Homo sapiens: one gene and its partners. The protein of the gene in region 1 purifies or fractionates together with the protein of each later gene. This does not show direct contact. Each region holds a gene or a part of one and is shown in the gene's direction. Other genes may lie near its edges. The genes, in order: INSL5, SEMA6A, PLXNA2 and UBR2.

Region 1 (7,717 bases):
GTGTAAGGAAGGGATCCAGTTTCAGCTTTCTACATATGGCTAGCCAGTTTTCCCAGCACCATTTATTAAATAGGGAATCCTTTCCCCATTGCTTGTTTTTCTCAGGTTTGTCAAAGATCAGATAGTTGTAGATATGCGGCATTATTTCTGAGGGCTGGTTTCTTTTCCATTCATATTACATATTCATTACAGATCAGTGGGCAGTTATGCTCCATATTGTTCTGACTCAGTGATTAGGTTCCCACATCAGGAATGTTGTTGGTAACCACAGCCAGGAAGAGGGAGAACTGGAGGATCATACACCGATCCTTAAATTTCAGGCAGAAGTGACATATGTCACATCCACTCACATTTTATTTGCCAAAATATGCCACATGGTGTTGCCCAATTTTAAAGAGCAGAGAAATACAACCCTACCATGTGTCAGGACAGAGGAGAACTAGAGATACGTCTACTCTAGAAATTCACAGCAATCCCAGATGTTAATCAATTTCACAATGGAGTTATTTCCAACATCAAATAAGTTGTGAAAACATTGAATTAAACAAAGTTAAAGAAATTTCATAACTATAAGTCTTCTCTGGGCTCTACTATATTAGTAGGCATTATTAATCTCAAAGAAAGAGACTACTATCATGGAATCCTTTTTAAAAAATATTCAAAGACCATCTGCAAAGACTCATGTTCTGAAGAAAACACTTTAAGAAACAGTACCATAAGACCTTTCTTTATTAGAACTTGTTTGTGGAAGGATGAAAGGAAAGAAGAAGGCAAGGAAAGGATGAAGGAAGGGAGGAAAGAAAAAGACGACAGCAGTGCAAATTTATGGATGGTTTTGAGATTAAGAGTTATACAGAAGAGTCATCCATAGTAGCTAGTCCCAACCAAAAATAATATTTTCTAATCCCTTGTTCATGACATTGTTAATTTATTATTTATTGAATTATATATTATTCTAGGTGCTGTACTTGTGTTAACTCATTTTGCTTCACAATAACATTATAAAACACAGATTATTATCTCCTCATAGATGGAGAAATTAAAACTCAGAGCGGAAAATTACATATTGTGTCTCCTATGTTGAAATCCTAACCCCCAAGGTGATGAAATTAGGAGATGGGGTCTTTGGGAGGTGAATAGGTCATGAAGGCAGGACCCTCATGAATGGGATTGATGACCTTAGAGACCCCAGAGAGCCAGCTTGCCCCATCTTCTGTGAAAGGACACAGAGAGAGGTCCTAGAATCCGGACCATGCTGTCACCTTCATCTTGGACTTCCCAGGCTCCAGAACCGTGAGAAATAAATTTCTGTTGTTATAAGCTACCCAGTCTCTGGTATTTTGTTAGAGCTATCCGAAGGAAACCTGAAATAAGACACATAATAATTGCCACATAGATAGTAAACTGAGTTACAGACCAGAATGAGGAAGAAAAATCACGTCCATCTCCAAATGAAAGGGATTAAGTGCTCCTGTGAGAGGTGCAAAAAAGAAACTGTGGTTACTCAAAAGATGGAAAGATTCCTTTTCAGTTGGTTAGCCTTTCATGGACCTTGAGGTATGTGAAAAAAGTGATGTTTGGGTACCTGAGTGGAAAGCATTAAATGTGATATTGTTTGGATTGTCTTCTGGAGGTAATGGTGAGCCACTGAAGGTTTGTGAGGTGGGAGTAACATAATCAGACAATTATAGCAAGACTGATAATTTCAAGTGCAGAGAAGACTTTTAACAATTAAATCCAACCCTCTCAATATACAAATGGGGAAAATAAGCCCCAAAATTTCAGGCTTCACATCTAGGGCTTTTATTATTGTCATGAGCTTTTTCATCTGGGTAGCTACTTGGCTGTCTAACTTGCCTCCATTAGGTCACAGAATGAGCTCAAGTATTGCCAGCCTTCCATCCCAAACTAAATGAGCCCTAATGAGGTATTAAGAGCTGGTAGAAGAGGGGACTACTTTGCACCTAGGGGCATCAAGTGTGGTGATAGCAGGATCATGCCAGAGTCCATCTGACATCCAAGGTAGGGATCGTCCCTTGGCTGAATATCCCTGGGGTTGTGCAGAAGCCCAATCCATAGCCACTGATGATAGATCTACTGCAGTGCTATGTTAAAACTGGCATTGTCAAGATATGCACTATAAATCTCCAAAGAAGGGAAGAAGTTTGGTAATACATGGCTCAATAGCTGTTATGTTGTGGATGTGCTAAGCATGGTAATACAGACGTCCCTCTGGAGTTGATGAAAGATGCTGATTTTGACCCATCCAAAGATGGAGTAGCTTTCTCTGATGACAGAACCATTTCTGCTTCTTTGGTCCCTTTCTTAGCAAATGACCGCCCTACCTCCCAGTTGAACAAGCCAGAAATCGAGGTATCATATTTGACATCTTTCTCTCCATTGCCCCTGATACCCAGTCAGTACCAAGCCCTTCTATATTTTGAATACACATGTGTCCTATCTCTCTTCCATGGCCTTAGTTTAGGCCACCATCATATCTAAATTATTGAAACAGCCTTTTTCTGTTTTTCCTTTCTCAAGTCTTGCCTTTCTTAATCCATTCTTCACACTACAGCCAAAGAAATGGAGAAAGCAAGACTCTTAGAAATAATTTTTATTTTTTACAGCAAAGAATGCTTTCAATTAGATAACAGATTATTTTGTTGTATTTTCCAGCTTCCCTACAGAAGAACAGTGATTTCACAAGAAGTACAAATGATATGATCATGGCCACAGACTTAGCAATTTTTTTCCAACCAGGAATCACAGACAAGGATTTCACAGAATCAACTGAACCATTATTTGTTCAACTTGCTAAAACCTGAGTCAACAGTTCTTTAAGATCCCAAACTCTGGGATTCTCAGTTTAGGTAAGACCTTTGCAAGAGCTAGTGCTTTCAGAGGTTTTACCAAAAGAGAAATTTCATTATTTAGCTATTTGGGATATGGACTTAGCTTTCTATTATCATAAATACGTGTGTTGAGAAAAGTGTACCTAGGTCATAGGTGAAGGATAACAAGATCCTAGTCAGATAAAATCTTCTGAATTCTGAAGTTATCTTTTCTAGTCTTCTATTCTGATGGTGAGAGGAGAAGCAGCTAATAATTAGTAGCTGTTTTTTTTTGTTTTTGTTTGTTTGTTTGTTTGTTTGTTTTTGTTTTGAGACAGAGTCTCGCTCTGTCGCCCAGGTTGGAGGGCAGTGGCGTGATCTCAGCTCACTGCAAGCTCCACCTCCCGGGTTCATGCCATTCTCCTGCCTCAGCCTCCTGAGTGTCTGGGACTACGGGTGCCCACCACCACGCCTGGCTAATGTTTTGTATTTTTAGTAGAGACAGGGTTTCACCGTGTTAGCCAGGATGATCTCGATCTCCTGACCTCGTGATCCACCTGCCTCGGCCTCCCAAAGTGCTGGGATTACAGGCGTGAGCCACTGCGCCTGGCCTATTAGCTGTTTATTGTACCAAGTGGGACGCATGTTATCACATTAGACCTATGAGGTAGTTACAATCATCAACACTATTTTACAAAGAAGGATGCCTTAAAAACTTGCTTAAGAGTCTAGATCTGGTAAGTAACAGCCAGGCAACAGCAACGGCCAGGATTCAAACTCAGGACATAAGAAATTGCCTACTTAAGTGTGATATCCCATTGTTCTGACATTCATATTGCTTTCAATATTCAAAAAAACCCCTGTGAGATGGGTCTTCCCATTCCAGAGATATGGTTATTGAGGTTCAAAAGGTTTTTTTGTTTACTTGTTTGTTTGTTTGTTTTTTAGAGACACGGTTTCACTGTCACCCAGGCTGGAGTACAGTGGCACTGTCATGGCTCATTGTAACCTTGAACTCCTGGGCTCAAGTATGCCATTGTGCCTGAGTAATTTTTAAATTTTTTGTAGAGATGGAGGTCTCACTATGTTGCCCAGGCTGGTCTTGAACTCCTTGCCTCAAGTGATCCATCTGTGTTGGCCTCCCAAAGTGCTGGGGTTACAGGTGTTAGCCACCAGGCTTTGCCTCAACTCAAAAAGTTTAAAACTTGCCTTATGTCACTCAGTAAGTAGCAAGGCTGAGAGTGAAACTCATTCTTGGCAACTTTCAAAGTCCGTGAGTTTTCCATAATGCCTTCCAAGAGGGCATCTGTTTTTATCATCTCACAGATGCGTTGATGGTATTAAGGAGAGACTGAATAGCTGGCAATACTCATAAAACCGCATTTTCAAAACTTTACTGTGTAACCCTATGTGCTTAGCAAATATTGTAAAAATGAGGTTCTGACCAATGAAATGTCAGGAAAGTTAGTATAAATTGGTCAAGAGAGTGACAGTCACTCCAGAATTTGATTTGACTATATTTACCATATCAGATTCACATTCAGTCCTCAGCAAAATGAAGGGCTCCATTTTCACTCTGTTTTTATTCTCTGTCCTATTTGCCATCTCAGAAGTGCGGAGCAAGGAGTCTGTGAGACTCTGTGGGCTAGAATACATACGGACAGTCATCTATATCTGTGCTAGCTCCAGGTGGAGAAGGCATCAGGAGGGGATCCCTCAAGCTCAGCAAGGTAACAGTAACTCATGTGTCTCCTCTATTTTCCTTTCACATGTCTCTTTTATTTTTTCAAGCTGTGTTTTAAACCATTATTTTATTAAGTGTTTCTCTAAGTACTGTTGAGGCATTTTTTATGTCAATTTAAGGGATTAATTATCAAAATATACTGAATTTGGCTTGGGAAAGTGATGAGCATGCTACCTTTCAAAAAATAACTACCTCATTTTTTAGTCCCCTGCTTGAAATCATTTAATCGCATGACTACTTCAATGGGCTCAGCATCTGTGGAAGGTACTTTGGAGGCTATGGCGAAGCATGTGATTTCAAGGAGCGTGTTGAAGTAGCAAGACTTTCACTCATGAATAATTGTACAATATAATAAGTTAGAATTCCGGCAGTTGTTAAATATGGATGCAAGGAAAGAAGCTGACCTTAATTGAGCACTTTTAAGTGCTGGGAAGTTACATGTGCAACATTTCATTCAGCTTTCTGATAAGGATCCTGGGAAGCAAGCAAAATTACCACCATTTATCATTTTACCAAGAAGAAAATTCTTCTCCCAGCTGGTGAAAATGTGGTTAGGTAGGAAACTGGGTCTATCTGGCTTCAAGAGCCAAGGTCTTTACTAATTCCATACTGAGTCTCGGGTGGGAAAGAGAATGTTACAAAATGTCACCTATTACAAAATGTCACCTATTTTGTAATAGGTGACAGCATCATGGAGGTGGTGGTTACTGACAGAGGCCCTGAAGGATTTGGGGATTATGGAAGGTGGTGGGGAAGCAGGGTGGGAATTCTAGTAGTAGGAATTGTCTGATCAGGATTTTGAAGGAAGAAATGAACCAAATGTCTTTCAGAAACGGTGAAGCGGCTGACTTCACTATATTTCTTTATTATTCAATTCAACTAACTTAAAAATTTGACTGAAATTCTTTCTGTTAATTCCATATTAAAGTATGAGGTAGAATTTATTTAAAATCCTATTTTTAGATTTTTATTTATTTATTTATTTATTTGATTGGAGACAGGGTCTTGCCCTCTCACCCAGGCTGGCACAATCATAGCTCACTGAAGCCTCAAACCCCTGCACTCAAGTGATCCTCACACCTCAGCCTCTTGAGTAGGTAGGACTACAGGTGTGTGCCACCACATCTGGCTAATTTTTAAATATTTTGTAGAGGTGGGGTCTTGCAATGTTGCCCAGGCTGGTCTCAAACTCCTGGCTTCAAGCAATCTTCCGTCTCGGCCTCCCAGAGCACTGGGATTACAGGCATAAGCCACTGGGCATGGCTGAAAATCCTATTTAAAAAATTATTTTTTTAATTGGTAAAAATTATATACATTTATTGTGTACAACATATTGTTTTGAAATAGGTATACATACAATATACATGTGGAATAGCTAAATCAAGCTAATTAACATATGCATTACCTCACATACTTATGTTTTTGTGATGAGGACACTTGAAATCTACTCTTTTAGCAATTTCAGGAATACAATGCATTTTTATTAACTATAGTCACCATGTTGTACAATAGACTTCTTGAAATTATTCCTTCTAATGGAAATTCTGTACTCTTGACCATCTCTTCCCCAACCATCCCCCTCACCCTCACCCTCTGATAACCATCGTTCTCCGCTATACATTTTTGAGTTTGACGTTTTTAGATTCCACATATCAGTGAGATCATGTGGTGTTTGTCTTTCTGTGCCTTGCTTAAGAGTGTATTTTAATAATTGGTTGTATTTGCTATGTTTTATACTAAAAAGTTAAAAAGGAAAAATGTGATTACATAATAAATGTTGCGACTATATGTATGATTGTTAAGGTTTCAGTTTAATTTAAAATGATGTTGGTAATAAAAACCTTTTAGAAAATGACCTAAACTGTTCATCTTTGGGTGGGCTAATGTGTTGAAAAAGCATGTATTTTCCATTTTCAGTACCACTTTAATATTGAAGTTCATATGACTAGTTGCTAACAAAAATTATATGGGTTTTTAATCTTAAGAGAGTAAGCATAATTTACCAGGATTTACAACAATCTCTGTAATAGCAAACCAAAATGCACTATAAAAATACATTTGGGATATCTCTGAAACACATAGGGGAGTGGAATGGATATCTATAAGGCTAGCTCTGTTGGACATCACTGAAATCATACTACTTATTATTCAATCTTTCTCAGATTTTCAGTGTTTTCCCACACATTATTTATCTGATCAATTACTGGTTTACCAACCAGCATCTGTTCACCTAGTTTTTCATGGTGCCTGCTGGTGTGCTAAGGCATTGATAAGTCAATTTGAACTAAATTAAAGTGAGAGAAGCTTATATATGAACTTTGGAAACAACACTTAGGCAAAAACTGTGAATTTCACTTTTTATTTTCAGATATAGAGGTTTAAATCTCCATTTCCTTCTTTACTGATCGAGATTGCAGGGCATACACAGGGTTTTTTTTTGTTTATGTGTTTTTTGTTTATAGCACATAACTAATATTGGAAGCTGCTGGTCATCCAGCAGAGGTAGCGAGTAAAAGAAGTCAAGTCCCGACTAGCTGAGCAACACTGACTGTCACTCCTCATCTTTGCACTCAAGTTTCTGCCTCTGTAAAATGAGGACAGTGGAGATGACTGTGCTCTCCCCAAAATGTCTAATCTCTCTGAAACCAGGCCAACATTTTAAAAAATTATGTGTATGATTCTATTTCATTTTAGGGATCCAGTTCATTTCCCCAGGAGTGGAATGTGGTTGCTGCCTTCTTTGTAGGAGCTGTCTAAGGATGTATTATTTTTTTCTCTTCCATACAGCTGAGACAGGAAACTCCTTCCAGCTCCCACATAAACGTGAGTTTTCTGAGGAAAATCCAGCGCAAAACCTTCCGAAGGTGGATGCCTCAGGGGAAGACCGTCTTTGGGGTGGACAGATGCCCACTGAAGAGCTTTGGAAGTCAAAGAAGCATTCAGTGATGTCAAGACAAGATTTACAAACTTTGTGTTGCACTGATGGCTGTTCCATGACTGATTTGAGTGCTCTTTGCTAAGACAAGAGCAAATACCCAATGGGTGGCAGAGCTTTATCACATGTTTAATTACAGTGTTTTACTGCCTGGTAGAACACTAATATTGTGTTATTAAAATGATGGCTTTTGGGTAGGCAAAACTT
Region 2 (7,691 bases), on another chromosome or scaffold:
ACACACACGCACACACTCGCCCTTGTACGCACAACTTTCTTTACCTCAGATCTGAAAAGCCGTTTAACCCACTTGCAGTGTTGTGCCAGCAGGTCTCAGAAAAGCTATTTAATGCCCCCCAGCGCTGGTTTTTAAGTCTTGCCAGGATGGGAAGGTCGAGTGCCTTTGCCTTGTCTTTCTTTAGTCCTGAAATTGTTCGTCGTCCTTCCCCTGGTGGACACATCTTGGGCATCAAGTCTGTGGTATGCTACAGTGATGGCGGGGAGGACTGGTGGTTTAATTAATTATTTAATTATGTTTTCTCCCCAAAGTAAAGATGCCTATGTTTAATTCTGACTAAAAATACTCTACACTTTTTTATACCGTACCCAAATGGCTACCAGCGGTCAAGATTGCAAGAATTTTGTATGACTTTTTAATGCTGTGTTTAGTCTACATGGAGCAGTTTTATGATTTACAGTAAGCTTTGATTAAACTACTCCAGGCACCAAAGTTAATTATTAACCTAACCTTAAATACAGTGGCAGAACTATGTCTCCACCTATTAACCTAAACTATCTATTAAAAAATAATTGCACTAGCTATTTGAATTTGGTTTACCCATGCTTGTTTGTATGGTAACTTTTATTTGAATCTTGAGTAACCCTTACTCCCTGTTATTATTTTGGTTTTGGGACGTTCTTGAATGAGGCACTTTGCAAACCAGTTTAAAGCAGAAAAGAACGAACATCAAATTTAAAATCTTACTTTTGGTTATGAGTCATTTTTCAACTTGATGTAAAGAAGCATTCTACTTTATGTTTCTGATGTACAGTGTTTGTGGGTGACAACCTTCCCCATATGTTAGGTTTTGCAGCTATCACCTTTTAGAGATGTGCTACATTTTCAATAACGCATATAATCCACATATGTAAATGTTAAGCAGATACCGAAAATCATTTCTGAGGAGCCATCAGCTGAATATACTTATTGGACATAACAACTAAGCTTAAATAGGTAAAAATTTTATAAGAACCAGTATAGAACACTCAAGTAAATGTCGAATGAATGAAATAAATAGTCACACATGGTTCATGTTTGTCCACTTAAAGTGGACTTCTTTATTTTCCCTACAGTGAAAAAAAAAATATATGCCTTCAAGTGAGTGGTTATGATAAGGCGGCAATAAGTGCACCTTTTTATTTACACACAACACACACCCCTCAAGTTCTTCCAAAATCTAGTAAATGCTTTTTCCAACATTAAACACATATAGCAGTTGTATTTTGAGTAGGCGGGTAACATTGCACTAGTGAAGTCTAATGTGTTGAATCAGAAGTGTAGCAAGAATTAGGAAGACTGTTATCTTCACCAAATAAAAATGAGGCATCCAAATTAAGAACTTGTATTAAATTCAAAATAAGTAGTTATGCTTTAAAAGTAAATGGGTAGTTGCACTCCTATATGAAATGGAAGGAAAAATACTATTTTGAACCAGGAGTTAAGTCAGATAGTTTATTCTGTGTACATTGTGGTTCAGCGCTTTTCAGAACAGGACAAAAGAGTGATGATGGGATGAAAGTTTTTTTAGAACTAGATTGCCAAGAGCTAATATAGTCTCTCCATCTTATTTGTTTGCAGGAAGGAATCACAGAACAAGCTAAGCTAATTGCAAATGCTTTAATTAAGCATCTGCCATTTGTGTAAGGCAATGCCTAGGAAAGCCTATCTCTGCACTGCCCCTCTCCACACCCTTCTTTAGGTTTAGACAATTTTCTGTCCTCCTAGAGTAGAGGAGTGCTCCTTGACATATTTATATAGAAGCTTTGTGTTATGGCAGCCACATTTGTGCATGTTGAGGAAGGTGATGCCTTGAGGCGTTCTGCTGGGCCCTCCCATATCAGGAACCCCCCCCACTCTCTTGGGGTGCCTTGGAGCCAAGTTTTCTCTGAGATATTTCTATTTCAGCGTGAAGGCTTTTCTCATCTGCTTTAAAATGTGCTGCAAGAGCAACTGAGCTATTCTCTGCTGGCGACCACATGGTTGCCTCTTGGGGATATGGTAAGATAGAGAAAGGAGGGAGGCATTTAATCCCTTCGAAATGGGCAAATGAGATGTCATACCACACAAACCTCAAGGGGAGGAGTTCAGGACAACTTCTCACCATGGGACTACTGCATATAGTCTATACACAAGGGTATCTTGCTTTGTGAAACAGATGAGCTCTTGCAAAACTTTATTACAATAATTCCATTTACACCAATAGAGGGTATCATATAAAACCATAATACACAGATGATTCCCAAATAACCTCTTCAGCTTAGACCTCTCTCCTGGACCTCACAAATAACCAATGCTTAGTGGGTAGGTAGCTCCTCCTGAATAGACATCTCAAACTTAGGTTTAAAAAACCTAATTCTGTATCTTTCTCCCCCATATCTGCCTTTCTCATAGTCTTCTCCATCATAGTAAATGGCAACTCCATTCTTTGAGTTGCCGGCCCCCAAATTTAGTTCTCCTTGAAGCTTCTCTGTCACACCTACATCCATTGTGGCTGCAATGCTGTTGGCTCCACCTTTGGAATACCTGCAGGCTTCCTTCAGGTGTTCCTCCTCTGTGGCCCTCAAATTGGCCAAGCCATGGTCCTCTCCTGCTAGGTTTTCATGCCAGCTTCCCCACTAGCATTCCTGCCTCTGCCCATTTCTCAACACAGCAGCCAAAACACAGCAGTGATTTTTTTTTTAAACTAAACCAGATCAGATCACTACTTTGCTCAGATGTTTTCCCATCTTCTTCCAATAAAAGCCAAAGTCCTTCCTATGGCCTTTGCAGCCCCACATGATCTGCACTCAGGTTCCAACCTCTCTGACCTCCACCCCTTGGGCTTGCTTGAATCTGTCAAGCATGGCATATACTTGGGGTCCTTTGCAAGGACTTACTCTTTCATGCCTTGGGATGGTTCTTTCCCCAGATAGCTACATGATTTGCTTCTCATATTCTTCAGGTCTCTGTTCAAATGTCACTTTCTCAGTGAAGCCTTTTGATCCCCTTATTTACTTTACTCTTTCCCACAGCACTCCCCACCTCTTGGCAGTCCTTATTTTTTTCTTAGCATTTTTCACAGTCTGACAAACTATATGTTGTCCTTGTTGATTTTCTGTCTTCCACTAGAACATAATGCCATAAGGATAGACATTTTTAGGCTTTATTCACTCTGGCACCTAAAGCTGTGCCTGGCACATCATGGGCCATCCATAACAAGTGTTTGCTGAATGAATAAACAGTGAATCATTTTTGCAAACAACTAGTCTTTATTTTATCTATTTTGTCTGCCTTTGTTTTTCTATATCATGTTTTTATCAAATGAGATACTTCATGCATGCATGTGTGTGTGTGTACTTCATGCATGAATGTGTGTGTGTGTGTGTGTGTGTGTGTACAATCTTCCAAGCACATAGGTGGTATGGCTCATGCATCATTAGTGGAACATTCACTGTGTTGTTTTTCCAGTGGTAGTGATGGATTGGAGCCTGTTCATTCCCACATTCTCACCCAGTCCCCTCCTGTGTCCAAGAGCACACATCTGTGAGACACCTGGTTGTAGCTGGAGGGAGTCTGAGTTAGGTAAAATCAACTTGCCAAGAAACAGAGCTAAGAAGACAGCCAGCATTTGTGGGGATTGAGCTTTTGACCCTGGCCTCATTTGTTCTGCATTCTAACCACTGGCCATAGAACGTTCATGTTTTTTTGGAGTTTGCTAATAGTAGTTTTAAAATTCAACTTTCTATCAGGAGAATACAGCATACTTTATTAACCCATGTTTCTGCCCTGTACCCGTACAGTATATCTGCTGTTGAGGATCCTGCACTTGGAGACAAGAAGACCTGAGTTCCAGACTCTCACTACCTTGGACAAGTCACTTAACTTCTCTGTGGCTGCATTATTTTAATTGAAAATTATAAATAGTAAACCTATTCTTCCTAACTTATAGGATTACTGGGAAAATAATACGAAATCATGAATGTGAATGTATTTAGTGAAATATTACACGCATTGTGGAAATTTGGGAAGTTTGATGTTAACCCCCTCTTTCCCACTCTGGACCCTGGATATAACAGAGATCCTACTTCATCTTCTAAATTATTTTTGGTAGAATATACACTGTTCATGTAGTTTTAATGTAAATCACATTATGCAACTAAATAATATGTTCAAATTCATTGAAATTGTACAGTTCACCTAGAGCATGGATAGCAACTTTATTAATTAGAACACCTACCATGTCAAGGAAACATTGCTTTCAACATTATCATTAAATCAGGCAAGGTCATAGGAGTACCATTCTGCCAGGAATTAGTTTAAAAGTAAGATAATTGTTTTTGCTCAGTTAAATTCTGAAATAGTTCAAATCAGTGTAACGATTAATATGTCAGGGTGAACCAGGACTAGTAGAAGTTTCCATCTTTGTCATAACAAGGCCGAATTCGTTAGATCTTGTGGCGTGAGGTTAATAAATGTGAAGGGACCGTTGGAGGGAAGGTAGTGGACAACTCTAGAGGCATTGCGGAGGTCATGCTTTTTTGACAGACAATGCACGTGGATTTGTTTTGCCATTTACCAACAGTGTGACTTTATGCCAGTTTCCTTTCTCCTTCAGTTTTCATTTGCAAAGTGCTAGTATGATGATAATGTTATGGTTTTGAGAAGAATAAATGTGCTAACATCTGTAAAATGCATGTCACAATGCCGGGCACACAACAAGCAGTCATTCAACATAAGGTATTATTTTTACTTGAGTAACAGTAGTTACGAAAAATGTCCTAGGAATGGATTTTGAAAAAGCAGATAGTACTTTTATTCTGGGGGGCAGGGGAAATAGTAGAAAAGGAAATGGCTACGAATCTGTAATATAAAGAGATGATGCAAAAGAAAACAACCTTTGGACTAGAAACAAACATTCATACCATAAACAGGCCATAATGTCATGGGTTTTAAGTTGAGAAGCATGTGAATACATCACTTGCAGGGAAACAGGAAACAGGGAAACTTTGGAATTTGAAATATCACACCCAAAACATGGAAGGAAAAAACCACTATATATAAAAAATAATAATAATAACAAGCAGAGCCTTATATCAAATAGGAGCCCAAGGGATAGTTTTTGAAAAATGATAGCTATCACTTATTAACATTTTAATAATAAAATGTACACTCTGCACCTACATTTAGAATCTGAAAGCAACTCATAATGACAATTTTAGGGATGAGTTGAATTCCCAAGGACCACACCTGTCTTAGGAGAGAAACTCGGCTGCTGATTGGAACCCTTGAGGAGGTTGTGGCTAGGACTTCTGCAAGAGGGTCTTCAGGTTGGGCATGCATCTGCCAGGTCACTCTTCCCTGGCCAAGCTTGAAATCAATTTGGGAGCAAAAGCAAACTACTGCCTTCCACACCAAAGGTAGGAAATAATTGGCTGACCCCAGTAGAGATAGCAGTTATTCTGCTGACAGACACACTACTACAAAACCTGAAATTTGATTCAAATGATAGTCATACAAGTTCTTATCAGTGAGAAAAATCTGACTTCTAAAAGGCACAGCAGAAGGGGAAATAAATTGATGTTATCACCACAATTCCCTGCTACCATTATGTTTTCCAGGAATGCCTCCATGGCTTAGAGTTACAGTTATTTTCAACTAGGAAATAAAATGTTCTCAAACTCTGTAAGTGGAAACAGAATGGAAAGAGTGTGAGATAAATCAGTAATTAACATGCTGCAAGGACCGAAGTTTCAGATCCTTCTTAGCAGCCAGTATGGTGACTTTTGCTTAGAAAGCATTGTTAGTAATAGATACTTCCTCATGCAGCCTTTAGACTTGAAGCTTTCTTTTAATATTCCTAGGTGCTTTCTAGGAATTTCCAACTAACCTATAATTGTCATCTGTAGAACATTAAATTCAAAGAATCCATGCCAATTAAAAAAATTTAGCAGAAGAAGCTCTAAAGTTGGTGCTGTTTACGCCTTTCTTAGCCCTTCTGCCCCTCTACGCTTCAAAGACCAGCCTTTGGCCATGATTTGATTAGAAGCATTTATAGAACAGAACAGGATCTGGCATTAAATACAATGAAAACATGCCATTGGAAAATAAACATTGTTAGAGACTACGAAGAAATAAAGATTGTATTAATTATGTTTTAATGTTCTATGAGGGTTTTACAGACAAGCTGTGATAGATCCATTCTTCTTTCCCTGTTCCTATTCCTGATTCGTTTTTTAAAGAAAAGTATTCAGTCTTTTCATTAATATTGCAGCGACTTCAGCACTTCCCCGCCCCTCCCCCAGACTCCTACTGTCCTTGAATGAGGAAACTGAGAGAATACTGATTGAGCTGGTGAATGGAAACGTTCCTTTCCTGAAAATGGAATGCTTTACAAAAAATTGCATTCCACAAAAAAACACTCAAAACAATTCAACAACTGTCCCTCCTCCTTTCTACCCAGAGAGCCACTTGATTTCATTCACATATTTTGGTTTTTCAATGTATTTGTTCTTAGGCCTAAAATACCCAGGTGGAAAACCATTCTATTAAGCCTTTCACTATTTTAAAAACATGAGCATCTGAGTTTCTAAGAACATTCTCATTCCTGCATAGTGAGCGATAAATAGAAACCAAATTGTTTGTAGCATTCTAAACTCAAGTATATTGGCAGAATGGCAGTGGAGTTGATTTTTATAAGAATACTTGTTAATGGTTTTCGAGACGGATTCTGTGCTAATTCTTCTTGTATCATGAATGATGGCCCTAGCTAGACACTGTCGCTGGGATCTTCATCTGTTAATCATGGAGGCTGCTTTCTTATTCGGTTGCCATAGTTTCAGTGCCTCACATAGTGTTGGGGTGTCTTGGGAAAGGTTTGAGATATACTAGGGCTTGCAAGCCTTGCAGTTATTTTGACAGTTGTGCTCTGAAAGACTGAAAACCGCTTCTCGTATAATTCAGTGTTGGATTAAAAGAGGCAACTTCTGAGAGTGTCTCCCTGGACCTTGTTATGTGCACATCCAGCTGGTATTTAATCCAGGATTTGCCTCTTGCTCAGTCTTGCTGGCAAAAAAAATAAATAAATAAAAATACAGTACAGAGGCTGATGTCACTTTCATATTTCAACAAGAAAGCAAAGGGACGCAAACTCTTCATTAAGACTATTCACAAATGTGGAGGTAAATGAGGCCATTCATGACTTTGCTTAAAATTTCTGCTCCATAATTTGGCTTTGGCTTTGCAGATTACTAAATAAATAAAATGACATCATGATTGCTGTGTGCCGTGTGTTATTTTGGCAATGGAAACATGTAGAGCTTTACTTCAGGTTTAACCTTTCCTTTTTTACACTTGACACTCATTGCTAAGGAGCTAGAGACCATTTTACTGTATTTTGCAACAAAAGGCTCATACATTTTGGACTGTAGGTCTACTGCTTTGTCAACTCGTGAATAGTATATGAACATTTTTCAATTATTTAATAATTTCAATATTTTGCTATTTTTTTTTAGGTTTGTGACTTTAGAGTTGATTAGAGAATGTTCTCCAGTGGTGTATATATTGTGTGACTTGGTCAAGAAAGGATTTGGGGAGTAAATTGCTGTAAGAGGGTGATACACATACACACATTCTGGCGATTTATGTGCTTCACGTGTGATGCAGAACACAGC
Region 3 (7,580 bases), about 140 Mb from region 1:
GCAGTCTCTCTCTTCCATTCACAGGACTTGGCCCACACACTCCAGGCTGGCCTGTCTGGACCAATCCCTTTGTTCCTAACAATGTAGGGGTTAAGGGGAGGCTGCTCTGCTGCTGGGGTTGCCTGACAGCATCTGCTGGATGAAGGTGAGGTACCTGGTAGGGAGACAGAAGGGACCACATTCCTGCCTGTCTATAGTGGCAAGCCTGGGCTCAGGGCAAGTGAAAGATGACATGCATCTTAGAGCAGAGACCAATCAACTTGGTGGTGGCATCAGTGGTCTCAGCTTTGGGAGCCAGGTACAAACCGGGCAACAGCCAGTGCACCATCCAAACATTGCCCTCTGACACTGGCAAGCAGGAGCACCCTTGGCTCCCAAGCACAGGTCCAGGCACACATCCTCCTGAGCCCACCTCCCAGCCGACTCAAGGCACCGTAAATATATGCATGCACACACTCTCAGGCAGCATTCCCATGCTAAACACTGATAGCTTGCCACCCCCCGCCTCTAAAGGGAACAGACTTGATGCTGAAAGCCTGCCAAAGTGTGGCTGGCTTCCAGCACCAAAAATACCTCCTGTGATCCGAGGGGCTACTGTACTGGCATCTATTTGTGGGGCTGGAGCTGCTGCTGTGACATAAAGGACTTCCCCTAGGGATGGGCTAGTTGCCCATTTGGGCCTGTGCTCCCCAAAGTCTAAGAGCTTGCTTTCCAGGGCCAAGGCCTGCTCCCAGCCTGGAAAATGCAGGTGGCAGCATCTTAGCCAAACCTGCCTTCCACAGGAGAAATATTCATTCTTCACAGGAAACATTCTGTGGCATTCCAGAATGTTGGTGCCCTGTCCTCTCCCACTTCTCTCATTCTCTTGCTTAAGTAACCCATCTAGTTACTTAGCTTGCTTCTTTGACAAGCAAAGAAGAGGCCTGGGGCCTGGAACAAGAATGCAGAAGTGACAAATGACTTTCAAGGTGAGGTTCCAGGAATATCTTGACTAGGGAAGGTAGGTAGGTTGGGGTGAGTGGAGAACCCTGTTGAGTGTGCTATGATTTTCCAATGATGAGGATTTGGCATAAGATAAACATTTCCCCATTCATTCATTTGTTCATTCATTTGATAAATATTTGTTAAATATCGACAGCCTGCTCACAAATATGTTGCACTACATCTATCCTTCCAGATGGAAATGAGGACGAACTACAAGGCCCTGACAGAGGACTGGTCAGTCCCAAGGGGCTGTGGGCCTGATATCAGATGGACAGAATGAGGAAGAATATAGTGAAGGGCAGAAACATACAAGAAAACCAGAAACCTCAGAAAGAGATAGATCTGAGGTTATAGAATCTGTAGGGTTATTGCCATGCTTTCTTTAAAAATATGTGCCAAAGCAGTAATTATGGACTGTATATAGTTCCATTAAAGGAAGAAATTTAGTAAATTTGCTCTTCATAAATATTTGCGTAATAAATGAATGAATACCCAGATCAAAGGGAGAAGGTTAACGAGCAGATGTAAAGACTAGAGGTTCAGGTATACCGCTGTTGCCTCAGAGGATGTCAAATCTAAATACGAACCATGAACCCAAGGTTTTGGTTTTTTTTTAAATTCTCAGAGCATGTTATGGTAATTAGATGTTTAGCTAATAAGATCCATATTTGTTCTAGCCTATTAGGACTAAATATAACAACAATCTTTCCATTTTGATGATACTATTACTTCTTCCAACACGCTTACATATATCTATTTTAATTCCCCCAGTTGTCTGGAGAGTGAAGACAGAAATTCCCATCTTACAGATGGACAAACTGTGGCCTAGAGAAGTTAGAGGTACTTCATCCACTGTACCTCCCAGTAGATCAAGTTAGCGCTCTTTCCATTGCTATGCTGACCACAGGCTCTTCCATAGTCTCACAGGACTCAGATCTTAGACCCTGTTCAGTGGCAATGTGGAATCTGGATGGCGTCGTGCCACCCTGTCAGCCACAATGTGTCCTCCCGCCTGTGTTCCCTCTTTCTCTCCCTTTATTCAGGAAAGAGAGGGGAGGTGTGGGGATAAAAGATGGGGTGAGTGGAAGAGTCTGTTTCATTTTATGCTTCCTTGCTCTTCATTCTAAGATTTATTTCTGGACCACAGGAGTGGAGGGTGGCATATGAGAAAATTATTTCAATTGTATCATAATCTTCCCAAGGTGTGATTAAATTGAGGCATAGGGAAGAGAGGTGACCTCTTCCAGAGTCAGACACCACTTGATTTAGAACCAGAGGGCCCTAATTTTCAGCTTGGAGCTTTATCAATTAGATATCTCCAATCCTACCACGGCTGGTCTTAGGTGTAGCTGGCCAAACTCCATGAACAAATGGAGGAAGTGTTCCAAAATCTTCTAGCATCTTCTTCAAATCATCTTTTTTAATAAATTGTGGTTTAGATTCAGTCTACCCAGAGATAAAACGATCGACTAGTCTGTCTGCATGGGGAGACAAGATCTACTTATAAAAATAAATAAATAATAACACAGGGTAAATATGATAATTTATTGGTGTGTTACCAACAATGAATGCTAAAGAAGTTTGAAGGAAAGAACAGGTATGGATCAGGCAACACAGCTTAGACAGATTCTTTGTGGTCCCACAGGACAAAACTAGCAGTAGCCAGTGAAAGTTACAGGAACACAAATTTCAGCTAATTACAATGAAGAACTTTTGAAGAATTCGCTGATTTCTGCAGATGTTGGAGTAAAGCCTAGATCCCCCAGTCCTGTGTTGAATGTGCGATTGTTCGAGATGACTGGTTAGTCTAGATTTCCTTTTCTTCTTCCTCTCTCTCTCTCTTTTCTCCGGCTCCCTTTCTTCATCCTTCCCTCCCTTCGTTTCTTCTGCCGCTACTGCTCTAAGAATTTGGTGCAATTGCTTTTAGGTATTCGCAGTGATTTTTGTTGTTTTTTAGATTTATACCACTGAGGACTGTGGCCACGAGAGGGCAGTAGAGGAAGCTTATCAGAATACTTGGACAGGAGTAAACTCGTGTGCGCTCTAATCGCGAGCAGGGACTACGCAGATCCTGCGAACTCGCTGGGGTCCAGCTTGCAGGCCGCTTCCGGAAAGCCGTGTCTAGAGGCTGCGGAGTTACTGAGACTGTGTGGCGAGGAATCAGTGGCCTTGAGGGCACCGAGACATTGTCATCCAGAATCCCGAAACCTCTCACCTTAGGTTATTAAAATAAGTTATCTTATTGCCACCCCTCTGATTACCCTGCCAGAAAGATTCTCTGAATTGGATATAGAAAGCTCTTCTCCCGTCCCCAATGCCCCCATGCAAGTCGGGACTTACCAGATGCCCAGGATCCCTATCAGGGCTGGAAGTTTGAGATTCAATTCAGAGCAAGGTTCATCTTCTCATTGCAATAATAATAATAACAACAACTTCAAGCCTTATTTGACAGCTTGTTGGCCTTTTTCTTTTTTTAATTTACAAGAAGAGGAAATTTGCTCCCACAAATTCCAAGACTCTAGTCTCAACCCTACCAGACAAGCCCCGTTCCTCCCCACTCACCCCTCACTCAAATTACAGATGAAGAGGGAGGTGTGCAGGATGTGTGCGGTGACAGGTGATGCGAATGGGGGGGATTCCCTGTCCCTACTGCCCTCACCCACTCTTCCTGTGTTCTGAGCTCCCCCCTAACCCCAACGCTAGACCTTCTATTCCCCCGGGGGCCAAGCCAGCTGGGCTCGCAAGGCCCGACTCGAATTCCCGGGCCCTGGCAGCATTTTCCTTGCCCCCTTGGCTACTTAAGGTGGCCGATGGGTCCGGGCTGAGCTGGGCGCAGGACAGGCAGCCGAGCGGCCTCCGGATGCCAAACCTGCTTCTCCTTTGTTGACAGCTTGCGGAGGAGGAAGTCCGCGCGGGCGGGGGAGGGGGCAGGGTGCTGGCGGTGGCGGGCGGTGCCAGCAGCGGGCGCGGCCCCAGCCCGGGCGGACGCGGCCGGCGGGGAGGGGGTTAACGCGCGCGGCCTCTATGATAATGAGCTGCATGGTGAAATAGGGAGGCCGGCGCTCAGGGCTCCTCCGCCGCCGCCGCCGCCGCCGCCGCCGCCGCCACCGCGGGAGCCAGAGCTGCCGGGAGGAGCGGCATCCGCGCCAGACTGGAGCGGGAGGGCGGCGGAGGGCAGTTGCTGGGAATTTTTCAGCCGAGAGGGCGAGCGATCCGGAGAGAGACCCCGAGAGCTTGGGAGCGGTAGGGCGTGCGAGCGCCGCAGCCAGCGGAGCAAACCTCGAAATAGATCTGGAAAGCCAGGCTCCCGGAGGAAATGGGACTGTGAACGAACCGGAGAGCAAGAAGGGAAGGAAGCGCCGGGATTGCTGATGTCAGAGGAGCCCGGAAAGTCGCGCTGGAAAAATCTGAAGACAGCCGGGGCTCTGCTTCTTCCTCAGGAGAGACACCGCCGGCCGCCCCCACACGCCCCCTCGGCGCCTCCGGGTGCCCCCTGAGAGCCGGCGACAGCGCCCAGCCGGGCTGCTGCGGGGCGACGGAGGACTGAGGGGCGCGCGGAGCGGAGACCGAGGAGCGACTTCAGGAATACAGATAAGTGTCTGGTGGCTTGACGTGGATTTTAATGAATTTGGACTCCATGTGGATTTGGTCGTCTCCCTGATTCCGAGCTGCGGGCAGGGAGAGGGGCCTCGCGCCGCCCTCAGCAGCCGGCGGCGGCCGAGGTAGACCGAGCGGGGACGGAAGGACAGACCGACGTCGCCGAGCTGGGTAAGCGGCGGCTGGGCCGGGCGCTCGGAGTCGGCAGCGCCCTCCGCCCTCTCCCCACAGGCGCGCACACCCGTGGCGGCTTCTCCCGCGCCCGCCTCTTTGGGGTCCCGGCCCCAGAAGACCCGGCTTGGCCGCGGCGGGCGAGTCCCCGCGTGGGCTCGGCCACTTTCGCGGGCTGGAGCGCGGCGTGCGCGCGATCGCAGGCTCACTGGAGCCGCTGCCTCCCGCCGAGGGCTTCCCGGCCGGCAGCCCGCCGGCTTCCCGAATGCGGGCTGAGGGCGGCAGCAGCGCTCCGCGGCGCGCCTCCACCGCGCACCTGCCGGCGCTCTGCGGCTTTGGGGAGCTCGGGGCGGCAAGGCTGTCCTGAGAGCTGGAGCCCAAAGAGGGCCTCGGTGGCACCAGCGAGACAGCCCAAAGCCACACTGGCCAGCGATCGATTTGGGGGCGTTCACTCCAGTGCCGGGGTCCCTGGTGGCCGCCGGCTCTCCCTTCCGATCGGGGACTGGAGATCAGGGGAATGGGAAAACATCATTTGCGCGGGTTCCATAAGGCTCAGGGAGAGATTCCTAGGCACTGAATGGGTCTAAGTGTTTCATCTCCCGGGGCTCCCTTTGCGGTGTATCGCCCAGCAGGGGTCCAGCCCCTTAGTTTGAGCACCACAGGAGTGCTGGGGGTTGAAATGGGAGTTTGCTTAGGGTCCCAGAGGCTCCTTATGAACCATTTGAGAATGTTTCCTTCCATGTGCTCTTTCTTGCCCCACCCCACAAGTGAGGTAGGGATCCTAGAAAATTCTAGCCCTTTTTATCCATCCCACAGGTAGTCTCTATAATGCCAATCATGGTCTAGATGCCCAGAGAGTCACCAGAAACTACCATTTTAGATCCCCGAAAAAAGTCCACCTGTTTGGAATGACCCTTGCCCTAGTGGGAGCTACCTACTCAAACTCAGCTCTGCTCAGGAGGGATAGAAATAATGGTGGGGAGGAAGTTGGATAAAAGATTTGGGGCTCTAGGTCAGTAAGGGTCTAGAAATGAGAGCCCCATGAAGTGGGCAATGGAAATCTGAACAGGTCCCCTGTAGGAATCTTAGAGTGACAGTGGCACACCAGTAGAAAGTGCACAAGGGACATGAAGGCAGCATCAGTTTGAGGGGACTGGGACTGCCAGTCATAGCTTGAGGCAGTCACTTGGGGGCCCATCAGTTTGGAAGAACCCACAGAAATTTGGGGGCACATTCATTTCCTTCCATTCACGCGCACAGTGGACAAGGCTTATGAGCGGCAGGCCAAGATGAGTATCTTGGCTGGCCTGGGCTGGAGGCTTTGAGAGCAGGAGTCAGGTTTAGCTCTCCCCTCTCCCCACACAATAGCAGTCTCCCTCCTTTGCTGGGCTTCTTTCCCAGATCTTGAAACTTCACTCTTCCCTCTGGGTTGGCTTTGGATTCTGGGGCCTTCTACTGATTGACAGAGCCCCAGGAAGAGATAACCTTGGCTGGAGGAATTCAGCTATTCCTAACTGAAATGCACAACTTTTATGCAATAACCCCAGAAAGCTCCCAGAGTTGCTTGCAGCCCTCTCCCCTCTGACCTCCAGGCAAGAAAAGAGAAGAATTCATTAACTTCCCTCTCTCTTCACGGAGCACCATTTGAACTAATTACCTGGGATCTCTCCTTGGTGGTGGCCTGGAGGCTGAAGGGGCAGTGAAGAGAAAGGGTAGGGAACCAAGGAAACAGTGGAATCTGTCATAGCGAGGTTGTTTTTCATTCCCCTTCTTCCACCTGGCATCACCACCAACCCCTCCTCATTCCAGAACTTGCCCCTGCTGCCACCAACCAGCATTACCTAAAGGAGCTATTTCCCTCCACTCCGCAGCCGATCGTCTTCAGGGACCTGCTGATAAAGGGAGGGCAATGCAGATTACCCTCTCTGCTCCCTCACTGTCCTCAGCAAATTGCATTAGGATGGGGGCAAACTGGCTTGCAAAGCAGTTAAATGGAAATGACATTTGGAGCGATGTGCAGGGAAGATGCTGAGGAGCAGCAGTGGTAAAGTACCAGGAGATCTCTATCCAGGGACCATGAGTCTGCCAAGGAAATCCCAGCTGGTCCTTCTTTTTGGCAGGGCATAAGGACAGGGGTCCCTCAAAGCCTGGAGCAGGACAGGGGGGCTGGCTAGCTTTTCAGCCCAAGTCTAAATGAAGAGTATGGCAGTGTCTTATGTCCATCGCCCAAAACCATGTCATTACAAGGTTGGTGGCCCCCCTTTCAGAGCTAGTCTGAATACCTATCCCTGTCTTCAGAGCACCAGGGAACATTCACCCTGCAACTCTCTTGACCATCAAAAGCTGCAGATGCGGTGAATGTAAAAGTTCCTTCACCATCTGTTTTACTGAAGTCTGCACTTAAAATGAGGTTAAAAAGAAAGCCCTCAAAGAACAGCTACCTGTTTCCTAGGTCCCTTTCCCATTTACCAATACTTCTGCTTACTCAGCTAATCTTTATTTCATGGGCAGGTTACAAGAAAACATAGGAACAGGAGGGGAAACCAGTGACATGGTTAAATATACAAGGCAGCAGCTGACAGCAGCCTAAACTCACCACTTTAGGTGCTATGAAATATTTATGGTGCTGGAGTTGTCACTGTTTGGGGGTTTTATAGTTTCTATCCTACCTCATTTTCTATGATTGCCTCCCTAAGATATAGGGTTTGGTGTGGGGGAGGCAATTCCTGTCTCCAGCAGCACCTCCCCACCACCACCAGCTGTCTCCCTGCATTGCCACACAGCTGTCTCCACACACACGAACTGAGGCACAATATACTTCTGTCCAT
Region 4 (7,691 bases), on another chromosome or scaffold:
TCTCTCCATTCCTTCTTCATTCTGAAACTCAATTTTCCCTTAATTTCTGTGACACTCTTGGCTTTCTTTCTGCCTCTGTGGCTCCTGCCTCTCAGCCCACTCTCCCTCCTCCATCCTGCAGTTGTCATTTTTAAACCTCCAGAGTTCTGCCATCTAATACTCTTCCCTGGTCAGCCCCATCTATGCCTCTGATTTCAGTTATATCCAAATGATCCCCACCTGTGTATCTCCAACCCAGATCTTTATCTTAGGTGTAGGTTATCTCTGCCTATTTTTTTAACCTGGATCTCCTACACATACCTAAAATTCAATCCAAATTAATTTTTCTTCCTATAGTCCCTGTTTTAGTTAATTTCACCACTATTCATCCAGGAGAAACCAGAAAATTGAAGTCTTTTTTTTTTGAGATGGAGTCTCACTCTGTTGCTCAGACTGGAGTGCAATGGCACAATCTCGGCCCACTGCAGCCTCTGCATCCTGGGTTCAAGCGACTCTCCTGTCTCAGCCTCCCGAGTAGCTGGGATTACAGGTGCATGCCACCGTGCCCAGCTAATTTTTGCGTTTTTAGTAGAGATGGGGTTTCACCATGTTGGCCAGGCTGGTCTCAAACTCCTGACCTCAGGTGATCTGCCCATCTCGGCCTCCCAAAATGCTGAGATTGCAGGCATGAGCCACCATTCCCGGCCTAGATACATTTTTTAGCCTGGGCATTCACATTCAGTTGGTCAGCAGAGTCTGACAAATTCTCACCATTCCTTCTTCTACTTGTTTGGTTCAGCCCCATATTATTTCTTGCCTAGATTATCATAGCAGTTTTTACCCAGAATCTCACTCTTCTCTAATACGTTATTAGAGGGGCTCCTCAAAAGCAATCCTGTTCATATTCTTCATACTTTTACAAACTTCTTAACCTATTTCTCCATTATCACCTCCTGCCAGTTCCCACCCCTGTGGTCCAGACTTGTAGAATCACTGCCAGTTCCTCAATGCTAGTTCCCATGCCTTTGCACATTCCATTTCCTCTGCCTAGAGTACCCTAAGCAGACTGCTACTCTTTCAGATGCTGTTCAAGCTTTCCCTTCCCTTAGAAAGCCCTCTGAACCATGTACTGTGAGTTAGAGACCTCTCATCTGTGATGCCTGCCTCCTTCCCCACTTTCTTCCTTTCCCACCCCAGGACTTTAAGCTCTTTGAGAGCAGGAGGGGGAGAATGGGTTTTATTTGAAGATCTTCAGAACCAAGACCTAGTGTATATAGTAGGACCTCAATATTTATTGAACCAAACATTACAGAAAATTTGGAAAATGAAAAAACAAGCAGGAAGAAAAAAGTCATCAACTTATCACATACCCATCTTTTTCCATTAGCATATTTATGCTTGATTACAATTGGTACTCACATGTAGCTTTGTTTCTGCTGTATTCTTTAAATCAAGAGTTTTCTTATTACTGCTACTTAGTCCTCATAACAATTTTTAATAGCTGCAGGCACCCTCATTTGTACCACCATCTTCTTAGACAGTTTCCCCAATATTTGGAGTATCTCTTTAGGATACTCTACATTTTACGGAAGAGTATCCACATTTTAGAGGATCTCTTTAGGATAAACATAAGAGATATGTGTTTTAGGGTATCTGTTTAGGATAAACATAGAGAAATACTGCATCCGCATCTTGGCTTGTTTATTTGTTTTTTGAGATAGAGTCTCGCTCTGTTTTCCAGGCTGGAGTGCAGTGGTGTGATCTCAGCTCACTGCAACCTCTGCCTCCAGGGTTCAAGTGATTCTCCTTCCTCAGCCTCTCGAGTAGCTGGGATTACAGGTGTGAGCCACCACACCCGGCCTGCACTGGCATCTTGGGAGTGTCCCTTGCTTTCTGTCAGATGCGTATATTCTATATTCTTTTCTTTTCCAGAGAAAACCAGCAACATGGTGGCAAAGAGATAGATTTCATTTATTCAGCACACACTTAGACATTTCCCATTCCATTTATCCTGTGTTAGAGGCATGTCATTGAGATGTCATAGATCTAGTTCCATACCATCTAGAGCAGTTTCATTGTGCATCCAGCTGTGCTCTGAACTAGCATTCCTGAAAGAGAACTGCTTTGCATTTTTGTTTTTTGTTAATTGCGTTGGTTTATTTTAGGATGACTGTCTTAGGTCATTGACGAGATTTGCCGCAGCACACTGGACAGTGGCATCAGTTTCAGTGGTGCAAGGACATTTTTGTAAACTTTTTGCATGTGAGTATTAATACATTTATAACATGTTGTAATTTTTCATCCTCTGAAATTTTGTTTTTAATGGTACAGCTTCTCTCAGTAATGAATTAAATATTTAGTAGTACTGGTTTTCTTATATATAAGCTCTAGCTTATAAATTCTCATGTGTCTTGCAAGAAGATAAATTTAAAGCAGATTATATGCATTTTAACATGTTGGCATATGAAATATGCTAATGTATTTCTCTTTAAATCTGTAGCACTGGTGCCTAATGACAGCCATGAGGAACTTCCATGCATATTAGATATTGACATGTTTCATTTATTGGTGGGTATTGTGCAGTTTGTTTGGACTTCTACGTCATACTATGTAACTTTACCTTAGGTTTGGTGAGCAGTGTAGTGGCAGACAGGAAGGAGTTATGTGATTTCCTTACCCCTTCTGAGTATAATTCTTTTATGAGAAACCTCAAAAAGAAAATATTTAGGAACCTAGTTGAGAGACTTGACCTGGTTATCGAGACGTCCTCTGACTCTTATTTTGCTTTATGGCTGAGGTTAGTATTTTAACCTCTCTGTGCTTTTAACCTGTAAAGAGATAAAAACACCAGCAACGGGTCAGGTGTGGTGACTCATGCCTGTAATCCCAGCACTTTGCGAGGCTCACCCCAGATCACTTGAGGTCAGGAGTTTGAGAGCAGCCTTGCCAACATGGTGAAACCCTATCTCTACTAAAAATACAAAAAATTAGCTGGGCGTGGTGGCACATGCCTGTAATCTCAGCTACTCAGGAAAGTGAGACAGGAGAATCACTTGAACCCAGGAGGCGGAGGTTGCAGTGACCAAGATTGCATGACTGCACTCCAGCCTGGATGACAGAGCAAGACCCCATCCAAAAAAAAAAAAACAGCAACAGAAGCACTGCTGCTGGCCCATACAGTGCTTTTGTACATTTTCGAAAATCTGGCAGATACAGCCCTGTGGTCACACTACTTAGCAGCAGAGAGCCCCTTATAATTCAGGGAAAGGTATGTCCTCTGAGCCAGGACATCCTAGTGCTAAGACACACAGCTGTCCAAATAGTGGGTAGCCAAATTTCAGCCCTACCTCAACTGGGTTCCCTTGCACAGGGTACAGAGTGTACTGCCACACCCAGCAGCCCCGAGTGCTGTGCCTTTATTCTCTGGACCTCAGATTCTGCCCCTTTAAGTTGGTTAGTACCTACTTTATATGACTATGTCAGAACTCAGTGAGTTAATCCATGTAACACACTTAGAGCAATATATTCCTAATAAATGCGGCTATTACTGTTCTCATTGCTGCAACTAAAACCACCACCACTTATACTGCCATGCAGACAGCAGGAGGCCAACAGAGCTAGCATTTGTGTACCTGCCAGCTTTTACATACGTTCACACTTACATCTCTACAATTTACATGTAACATATTGTCTTTAGTTTACCAATAGGGAAACTGAGGCCTGATCAGAGATATTAATTTGTGTAAAACAGCTCATAAGAGGAGGAGGTAGGATTCATATCTAGATATTTATGGGTCCAAAACCCATGTTTTTTCAACTGCCTACAGTCCTGGAGAGAGTTCAGATACTGTTTTTGTTAACAATAAGCTATGTATAGAGGACCCACTGGATTAATGAAATCATAGTGCCCATCAAGAGTCCTGTAACTCAAGTCATTTCATGTAGCCAGTCCTATTGGATTTTCCAACATGGATGCCCTTTCTTTAAGAACAAAGATTTCTTAAAGGGAGGAGCTGAACTCAGGAGGGATCACAGTAAGAAAATGGAAATGTGACCAGGCGCGGTGGCTCACGCCTGTAATCCCAGCACTTTGGGAGGCCGAGGTGGGCGGATTACCTGAGGTCAGGAGTTCGAGACCAGCCTGGCCAACGTGGCAAAACCTCATCTCTACTAAAAATACAAAAAGTCGGGCATGATGTTGCACGCCTGTAATCCCAGCTACTCAGGAGGCTGAGGCAGGAGAATCGCTTGAACCCAGGAGGTGGATGTTGCAGTGAACCGAGGTTGCGCCATTGCACTCCAGCCTGGGCAACAGAGTAAGACTCTGTCTCAAAAAAAAAATCAAAATAAAAGTAAAAGTAAGAAGATGGAAATTTGCTTAGCTGTGAAAGGAAAGGCGATCTGTCTGATGTCCTGTGTTTGGTGCCTAGGTGGGCTTGGTGCTTGCATTTCCTGCGTTGCAGTGTCAGGATTTTTCAGGGATCAGCCTTGGCACTGGAGACCTTCACATTTTCCATCTGGTTACTATGGCACACATCATACAGATCTTACTTACCTCATGTACAGGTAACTCTTGCCTTTTTGTCAGTTTCTTGAAGGAAATACTTGAGTTTTCTGAGTTTTAAAAAAAGTATTAGAGGAAAAGGTATTTGGATGAGAATAACACATGAATAAGGCTGTTTTTTTCTGTGTATCTTCATATGAAAAGTTTTGAAACATTTCTTTCTCCTCTTAAAATTTCCTAGTAATGTGAATGTTTCTAGTTTTAATTTCATACATTCAGTAATATTTGTGTAGAATAGTAATTAAATCTTTTAGAATCTTATGTTTTAGAATGCCAATTTTGTTTTAACTTACATGTTTGTTAATGCCCACATGAATTCATCATTAAATTACGTTTTGCATTCAAAATTCTTGTTTTTCATACACTTTAAGACTATATTTATTTGATTTTACTTAAAACATGCCAGCTGGCTGTTTGGTTTGATTGAGATCAATACTGTGCTCCCACTTGAGGGATTACAATTTTGCATGTTTTCTAGGAATACTTCATGTTATATGTGAGTTTATGAATATATTTGCATGCTTAATGTCTTCAGTCCTTTTGATAACACTTAATTGGAAAATACAGAGTACTAGTATTTCCTTATCTTTCAGAAGAGAATGGCATGGATCAAGAAAATCCCCCTTGTGAAGAAGAATCAGCAGTTCTTGCTTTGTATAAAACACTTCACCAGTATACGGGAAGGTGAGTTAGTTATCTTTACATAACGCATTTCCCTAAATATTGCTAGATGATGATAGCATGAGAAAGGAATTCGTTTGTTAATTAGGGGAATTTGTTGTCTGTTGACATGTTTTTAAAATAAGACGTGGAGTGATCTGCAGAGCCTTTCTGAACTATTCATATACTAACATAATTGGAAATCTGGGAGAAAGGTGATAATATGCAGAGCTTCCCACATTTATTTGGCTGTGGAACCCTTCATTTGCTCAGGGATCTGGCAGAGACTAGAGGATAGATCAAATGTACTTTGGAAAGTTGATACTCTAAAACTTATGTTGTCTCATTCAGAATGGGAATTTAAAACTGCAAGTTAAATTGGCATAATTTATTTTTAAGGTAATATTCAGTAGTAGCAGGAATAAAATGAAATTATTAGAATTCCATGTATGGTTAGAGTCATGATTTGCTACAAATAGCAATTCAGTAGTTTGCTTAGCTTTCAACAGTATATATGTCAAGAATCTGTAGTCAGGAACCTATAAAAATGTCTGTTTTTTGACTATCCCATTTCTGAGAACCTACATTAACAAAATAATTCAACATATAGAAAAAAAACATATAGGCATATAAAGATGGACACTCCAGCCAGGCACGGTGTCTCACCCCTATAATCCCAGCACTTTGGGAGAATGAGGCTGGCAGATTGCTTGAGCCCAGGCATTTGAGACCAGCCTGGCCAACATGGTGAAACCCTGTCTCTACCAAAAAATACAAAAATTAGCCAGGCATGGTAGCATGTGCCTGTGGTTCTATCTTCTCAGGAGGTTGAGGTAGTCAGATCACCCAGGCAGGTGAAGGCTGCAGTGAGCCATCACACCACTGCACTCCAGACTGGACAAAAGAGTGAGACCCTGTCTCAAAAAGAAAAAGATGTACACTCTGATATTATTTATATTAGCAAATAATTGAAAGCAATCTAAGTGTTTGCAGGGGAATAGTTTGATATAGTGATGAATGTGTTCCAAAATATTATAAATCTATTTAAAATATGGCTCCTAGGAGCTGGGTGCAGTGGCATGTGCCTGTAGTCCCAGCTGCTCAGGAGGCTGAGGTGGGAGGATTGCTGGAGCCCAGTAGTTTGAGTCCAGCCTGGACAACTTTTCATTTTCCACATTTTCTCTTTATGTCACTATGTTACTTTTATAAATTTTAATAACATCACACCTGTAATCCCAGCACTTTGGGAGGCCAAGGCGGGCAGATCACAAGATCAGGAGATCGAGACCATCCTGGCTAACACAGCGAAACCCCGTCTCTACTAAAAATACAAAAAATTAGCCGGGCGTGGTGGCAGGCACCTGTAGTCCCAGCTACTCAGGAGGCTGAGGCAGGAGAATGGCGTGAACCCAGGAGGCAGAGCTTGCAGTGAGCCGAGATTGTGCCACTGCACTCCAGCCTGGGCGACAGAGCGAGACTCCGTCTCAAAAAATTTAATAACAGCATTGGAGGCTGTGTCACCACTTACACCTGGCATCCTATAATAACACACACCCACTTGCCTGTTAACTCACAACTTTTAAGCATACATGCCATCAGTTCCAAATGACAGTCAAGTCTGTTTTCACACTATAAGTACAGTGACCTTTTCTTAGTAGATTTCCCAATAATCTTTTTTTTCTTTTTTAGTGCCTTGAAAGAAATACCATCCGGCTGGCATCTGTGGAGGAGTGTCAGAGCTGGAATCATGCCTTTCCTGAAGTGTTCTGCTTTATTTTTTCATTACTTAAATGGAGTTCCTTCCCCACCCGACATTCAAGGTAATTTATACTTTCTTTCAAAACGTAGGGAGAGTTAGTAATCCTTTACTCCAGCAAATATAAAGATCACTTGCAAAAATGAAAATTGACTAAAAGTTCAAAGAATAGCTTATTGACTATGGTGATGTACACATTTATAGCATAAAATGTATGTTTATGCATATGTCTCCATTTATTTGGATCTCAGTAAATGACTGTTAAACTTCTGTGTAAATGTTTTTACACCTGCAAAGCCCTTCTCCCGTAAAGATCATAGTTTTGCTTTCAGATGTTAAAATGTTCAGTTATGTATTATTCATAAACAAGGTTCCTCAGATTTGAAAAGGTGAAAACTGACAATTTCAAGTGATTTTTAACTTGAAACATGCATAGCATTAAAATTTAGAATACCCATAATTGCACATAAATCTGATTTTAATCTGGGAATTGATTTGCTCTTTCATAGTTGTTTTCCATGTTCTGTTTTGATTCATTTCATAAAAGTAGTATGAATGTGGACTTGACTGTATCTCTGTATCCCACAGTGCCTGGCACTGGCCGTAGAGTACCTGCATGCAGTGCTACTCTCTGAAAGTTTGTCCACTGGCATTTCCATTTAGCTAGTTGCCTAGGAACCATATAAAAGAGTTTAGTCTTCCAGATTATTTGCAGTGATGATTAGAGTTGGT

What was found.
Region 2: the proteins of INSL5 (region 1) and SEMA6A purify together in Homo sapiens (affinity purification with mass spectrometry; 2 studies listed by BioGRID and IntAct, with this or other methods). This does not show direct contact.
Region 3: the proteins of INSL5 (region 1) and PLXNA2 purify together in Homo sapiens (affinity purification with mass spectrometry; 2 studies listed by BioGRID and IntAct, with this or other methods). This does not show direct contact.
Region 4: the proteins of INSL5 (region 1) and UBR2 purify together in Homo sapiens (affinity purification with mass spectrometry; 2 studies listed by BioGRID and IntAct, with this or other methods). This does not show direct contact.

The regions. Positions count from the first base shown.
Region 1 is NC_000001.11:66,797,891-66,805,607, reverse strand, and holds the start of INSL5 (insulin-like peptide INSL5 precursor), read left to right. Parts: upstream 1-4,331; 5' UTR 4,332-4,386; coding exon 4,387-4,561; intron 4,562-7,362; coding exon 7,363-7,595; 3' UTR 7,596-7,717.
Region 2 is NC_000005.10:116,564,548-116,572,238, reverse strand, and holds part of SEMA6A (semaphorin-6A isoform 2 precursor), read left to right. Parts: intron 1-7,691. UniProt on the Homo sapiens protein: Cell surface receptor for PLXNA2 that plays an important role in cell-cell signaling. Required for normal granule cell migration in the developing cerebellum.
Region 3 is NC_000001.11:208,240,815-208,248,394, reverse strand, and holds the start of PLXNA2 (plexin-A2 precursor), read left to right. Parts: upstream 1-4,010; 5' UTR 4,011-4,752; intron 4,753-7,580. UniProt on the Homo sapiens protein: Coreceptor for SEMA3A and SEMA6A. Necessary for signaling by SEMA6A and class 3 semaphorins and subsequent remodeling of the cytoskeleton. Plays a role in axon guidance, invasive growth and cell migration.
Region 4 is NC_000006.12:42,671,647-42,679,337, forward strand, and holds part of UBR2 (E3 ubiquitin-protein ligase UBR2), read left to right. Parts: intron 1-2,144; coding exon 2,145-2,241; intron 2,242-2,479; coding exon 2,480-2,547; intron 2,548-4,409; coding exon 4,410-4,545; intron 4,546-5,136; coding exon 5,137-5,227; intron 5,228-6,892; coding exon 6,893-7,023; intron 7,024-7,691. UniProt on the Homo sapiens protein: E3 ubiquitin-protein ligase which is a component of the N-end rule pathway.